2 separate regions of the Homo sapiens genome follow, and region 1 is linked to region 2. The links come from fine-mapping of genetic effects on gene expression. A gene starts in region 2. The other region holds a variant in brackets. All regions are shown on one strand. Distances are from middle to middle.

Evidence for each region. PIP is the estimated chance that this variant, and not a neighbour inherited with it, causes the effect.
Region 1: its variant is fine-mapped to the expression of MESTIT1 in visceral fat (GTEx, PIP 0.97).

The regions. Positions count from the first base shown.
Region 1 is chr7:130,891,751-130,894,659 of GRCh38, reverse strand. All of the region lies in intron 6 of LINC-PINT (long intergenic non-protein coding RNA, p53 induced transcript), which reads left to right. Among named protein-coding and RNA genes, the nearest start is that of MIR29B1, 16 kb to the right of the region's middle. The variant G/T (reference allele first, on the strand shown) is at 1,296.
Region 2 is chr7:130,489,356-130,492,264 of GRCh38, reverse strand. MESTIT1 (MEST intronic transcript 1, antisense RNA) reads left to right here and starts at 1,288. Exons shown (of 2, transcript NR_004382.2): 1 at 1,288-1,423; 2 at 2,298-2,909. It overlaps MEST (mesoderm specific transcript), which reads right to left and starts at 180. Exons shown (of 12, transcript NM_002402.4): 1 at 1-180. RefSeq lists a silencer at 1,143-1,352.

The sequences.
Region 1 (2,909 bases), 400 kb before region 2:
AGATGATCCAGGGCCGTCTTTTCCCTTTGAGAGTGGGAGGTGCCCTGTGGCCCTACCTTCATTTTCTGTGATGGTATTCCCAGTGGTTTCCTCCCTGTGGCTTTGCGGCTTAGTGGTGAACCAAGAGGCTTAGGATGCAGGTGCAAAGCCCCTCTACTCTTTAATGCCTCACTTCAAGGTGCAGGATCTTTCCCTCTGTAAACAAAGGCTTTCCTTCTGGCACTGCCCTTGACCTGCTCAGAGCTGTTCTCTGATCCTTTGGGTCTCTCTGCCCTCGTGACTGGCAGTGACCTGCTAGGCAGCAACCCCCACGCAGCAGGTGGTCCTCCAGAGCTGAGTCACCACCCCGGGAACCGTGCCCTGGTGAGGCCATCCAAGGTAGACCGGCACAGGGCGGGTGTGAGTGGCCTCTCCACCTGGCCCCTCGGTCTGGGAGGGCTCTTTCAGCTTGACAGAGAGAGCAAAGGAAACTCGGATTTTTGGCAAAGCAGAAAAACATTTTACCTGTGATCACAGTTATGGGCCTTGGTCAGTCATTTGATTTCAGCACACCCAAATTGTCCATTTACAGATACCTTGAGACATGGAAAGGGAGGAAATTTTTTAATGATGTTTTAAGATTCTGTTTGACCTCATGAATTAAGAGCGGTGAGAAGTAATAGAACACGGAGAGATACCTAAGCCATTGATTGATATTGTAGGCAATAAACAAGTGAGATTCAGATTATTTTTAAAAATTTTTTTCATGGGCACTGATGGATGTTTAAAAAATTATGACGTGTTCTGTTCATGACGCGTTCTGTTCATTTCCAGAGAAGAGAAAAATGTGGTTGCTTTTGAAAGGAGGTTTTTTGTTTTGTTTTGTTTTGTTTTTAAACGTCTAGCTTATTCATTACACCAGCGAATAGCAATGACCTCAGTCTAAAAAGCAAGTTAACCATCATCTCTCTCCTTGCCTGGGAAAAGAAGCCTTTATCTAAGTAGCCAAAAGATGGGCAAGGCTGACCACCCAGTCATTTCGGCTGATCAGGATTTTCCAAAAAACAAAAAGCTCTCTGTTTTCACAACTGAGTGACAACTCTTAGGAAATACTACCAGCTTACTCAGTTTGAGTAAGGCCATGGAGAAGTCTGGTGACAGTCAGTTGCCTGGATGCACATGTTACACATGGCTAACGATGCTGTCACCACTGGGAGCTTTCAGAATTGGAGAAAATAACACCGTGTCTCTTGCTTTCTGAACATGGAATTTTTAACTTTTTTTTTTTTTTTTTCTGGAGACAGAGTCTCGCTCTG[G/T]CGCCCAGGCTGGAGTGCAGTGGCATGATCTCAGCTCACTACAACCTCCACCTCCCGGGTTCAAACAATTCTCCTGCCTCAGCCTCCCAAGTAGCTGGGATTACAGGTGCCCACCACCACGCCTGGCTAATTTCTGTATTTTTAGTAGAGATGGGGTTTTGCCATGTTGGCCAAGCCGGTGTTGAACCCCTGGCCTCAGGTGATCCACCCACCTCAGCCTCCCAAAGTGCTGGGATTACAGGCATGAGCCACCCCATGCCCAGCTGGAATTTTTTAACTTAAAAAAAAAAAGTTTCAGTGTTTGTCCTTACCCATTATGTGCCCAGTTAGTTCTATACCAGTGAAAGTTCCCCCCAAAAGAAAAAGAAAAAGAAAAAAAAGACTGTCATTTTCTTGAGCAGCTTTCTTGAGCTCTGTGTGTGTATGCCTATGTCTGGGGCATACACAAGGACTCTGGCAGGCCCACTAAACTCTACCACGTAGTTGCCAGATATGCTGTAAACTGTCACCTGGAAGTTGGGATTTACTCTTTTATTTTTCTGTTTATTTTGCATGAGTACTGTATGTATAAAAAAGTAGCCACATATGGATGGTCAAAGGGTTTCCTAGAAATATGGATAGTCAGAGGGCTTCCTAGAAATATGGATGGTCAAAGGTATCCTAGTTTTTCAGGTAAACTCCACTAGAAACCAGAACCATATCCCAATTCCATAGCCTTTATTATTTCAGATCAATAGAAGCAGAATCAAAATGCATTTGGAGCTTAGAGGTCAATTGATTTGGAAACCACTCCGGTGCAAAGAATCTCTAGATTCATTGATTTTGGAGTATTGTTTAGGGGAAAAGGACTTTAAAGGCTGGGCGGGGAAGCTTTATTCCTTTTTTTTTTTTTTTTTTTTTTTTTTTTTTCAGAAGACATTTATGAGTTTATTGATTTGGCACATTTCCAGAGGACAATTCAGTGACATATACCAACATGTACAACAGATTCATCTTTTGACCCAACTTTTTCACTCTTTTTTTTTTTATTTTTTTTTATTTAATGTTTTTTTTTTATTATACTCTAAGTTTTAGGGTACATGTGCACATTGTGCAGGTTAGTTACATATGTATACATGTGCCATGCTGGTGCGCTGCACCCACTAACGTGTCATCTAGCATTAGGTATATCTCCCAATGCTATCCCTCCCCCCTCCCCCGACCCCACCACAGTCCCCAGAGTGTGATATTCCCCTTCCTGTGTCCATGTGATCTCATTGTTCAATTCCCACCTATGAGTGAGAATATGCGGTGTTTGGTTTTTTGTTCTTGCGATAGTTTGCTGAGAATGATGGTTTCCAATTTCATCCATGTCCCTACAAAGGACATGAACTCATCATTTTTTATGGCTGCATAGTATTCCATGGTGTATATGTGCCACATTTTCTTAACTTTATAACCTGTGTGGGGCAGGAGAATTAACCTGCTTTTGGATTAGAGGCTGCAAAAAAGCCAGTTCTGGTGACCACACTAAAAAGATTAATGAGCACTTAGCACCAAATTAAATACCCCCCTGCCCCCGCCTTTATGAAAGTGGAGTTCATAGTACAAATGTGACAGCGTTAAACATTGAAG
Region 2 (2,909 bases):
CCGCAGAGCCCGCAGCCGTGCAGAGCTGGCCAGCAGCGGGGGCGCAGCCCGCAGCCCACAGCCCGCGCAGGGCGGCGCCGCGCCGGGCAGCTACAGCCACTCCGGCGTGCGCTGCGGCACTGCGCTTGCGAGGCGCAGCTGCCGCAGAGGAGGTGCCGGGGTGTGCTGGTTGCCGCGGCAGCGCGGAGCGAGTGGGCACCGACTTTTAGAGCCCACCCGCGCCCCGCCCCTAGCCCGCCCATCGCCGCAGAACCCCTACCGCCTGCTCCCTTGCTCGCCGCAGAGCCCCTCCCAGCCGCTCTACCACCGCCATGGCCACAAAGATGGGGTGCCCCTCTAACAGTGGCTCCTTTAGGGGGCACCTTCAGGGGTGTCGAGCCCCCTCCCCAAGACCCCGCTGCTCCCTCGTTAACCGCCAACCCTGAGCCCGAGATTCTGCTGCAGAAACCCTCCCCTGATGAGTTAAGGCCACGGGCAAAAACAGCAGACCCCTGAGTGCCCCAACTCTTTCCTTAGACCACCCACAAACCCCACAGGCCGCCCACAAACCCCACAGGCTGCCCACAAGCCCCACAGGAGGATGGCCGCTCGAACTAAGGGGCAGCAGGGCTCTGGGGTGCCGGCCGTGGCGCCTGCTCCCATCCCTCGTTCGAAGCGTGGGTACTGAACCGTGAGAGGTGGCGAGCCACGAGGGCCCTATGCGCCCTAAGCTTAACTACCGGTAACCACCAAGGGCACGAGCAAGCGGCTAGGGAGCAACAAGCTCTGTTGGACCCACCACCAAGCTAGTAAACAGATTCATGGGATGGCCACTATGGCCAAAGTTGCACAAAGTCCGGTTTCTCCCGCTCCAGCCACCGCCGCTGCGCGGGGCAGGTTTCCTTTACAGCAGCGCGACGTGGTCAGCATGCCAGACGCCTGGCCACAGCAGCGCCCTCGCAGCCCCGCTCGCTGCATGCGCCGGTCCGCGCTGCACAGAACAGTGGGCACAATTAGGAGAGCAAAGCCCCCTTTATTTACGTAAGATAGAATCACAATGCAAGGGCCCAGAGGCACAAGAAAGAGGGAGGAATTTTTCTAATCCATAATCCTTTAAAAGGCATCCCTTACGCCTTTGAAAAGTGTAGAGTATCACGAAGTGTCTGTGTTCATTTTCTGACCGTAAACTGAAATACTGGTGAACAAACGTGGGGTGCGAGCGGGTGAGCGGGGCGGCCGGCCGGTGCCCGCTGCATCCAGAGGGGGCGCTGCAGGCCTCCCTTCGGCTGCGCACGGCCCGGGCCCTCCGCGGCTCTGCAACTCTGCACCCCGAAAGGTTCGGTGCTGGACCGCGGGGCATCCAACCCGGGACCGGGGGCGACCCACGGACACTGAGGAAACTACCGCCTATAAGCCTATCATCAGAACCTCTGGCACAACACAGGTACACTTCTGCAGGGGTCTGGTTGCCCCCAGAAAAAGCACTCATGAAACAAATGCTGATTTAGCACCTACAGGGCACTAAGAACCGGGGGTGCGAAATAAATGAGAAATAGCCCCGGCCCGAAAACAACACACGGGCCATCTGGAGGGGAAGACAGACAAGAACTGCCACTTTGTAAAATTTTCCTTTTAATTTCCTAGCGACGTTTGTGGCAGTTGACCCACTCCTCCCTAACGTGTAAGGCCCTCAGAGGCAGAGCCCAAGTATTATTCACCTTTTGTAGCCCCAGAGCCCGCCACGGTGCCGGCCACAAAGCTGGCCCCTAATAAATACTGCTTGAATGAGTACAAGAATTTGAGGGCGCACAGGGGAGGAAGTAATTAAGGGGAGGGGCGAAGGGTGGTCTTGAATGATGAATAGACATTTACCAGAGAGACAAAGAACATTCCAGCCGGAGGGGACGGCTTTCGCAAAGCACCGGAGGCTCAGGGCCGCGTGTTTGGGGAAAACGGTTAGTCCTTTGAGCCGGCAAAAAATTAGGATAGCAAGAGAATTTCATCGTAGGGAATTAGGAATTTGTTCTAGAGAAAATGAGAAGCCACAGATGGATTTAAACTCTTTATGGCCTTAATTGGTTACTTAACAAAATTTAAATTAGTCTCTTTACAAGTCAAAGATTACCTATTTTAACTACCACTACCTTTTAAAGACTGAATTACTCTGCAAAATCTAAATCGGTTCTTCCAAAAAGGTAAAGGCTTTCCTATTTTAATAATAACAATAACAAAAGCCTTTGCATTATATATTTTTCATATTTATTGTTAATGGAAACTTTGAGTCCTACAAACAAATTCCACACTTTCATTCTCACCAGGCCAGAAACACCAGCATCCAAGATGAAGGCAATTTTCTGTTTATGGACTGAGTACCCCACAAAAGATCTTATTCTGAAGGCCATGGAACATGTCTACCCACATGGATCAAGTGGGCAGACTGGAGGAGAAACAGTTTAAAGGCCCTGGGGGAAGGAGGGAGCGCCAGGGAGAGCTCCTGAAGACAACAGGAATTCCAAGTCTGGCACTCGGGAGAAATCCTCCCTTCAGACATTATTGATGTCTGGCCGAGGAGTTAGGAAAAACTTCCTTGAAGGAGGGATTGAGGTTGAGATGGGCATGGAACCCAGATCTTAGGCAGAGAAAGCATATTCCTGTTTGGAAGAACCCTGAGTACAGAAGTCAGCTCAAAGATATCAGCTTGGCCCAACCAGGAATTCGCTGTGGGAAGTCTAAGAGAGAAAATGCTGGCCATAATCCCCCAGGAGCCAAAGAGTTAACGAATCTTCTAAATGTGCCTGATTTACTTCCAGAAAGGAGCTTCCTCCGCAGGGGGAGAATTTGACCCAAGGTATAAAACACTTGGAGCCCTGAGAAAACACACAGCCACACATAAATTCAAAGTCGGCTCTGGCTTGCTCGAAGTTGCACCC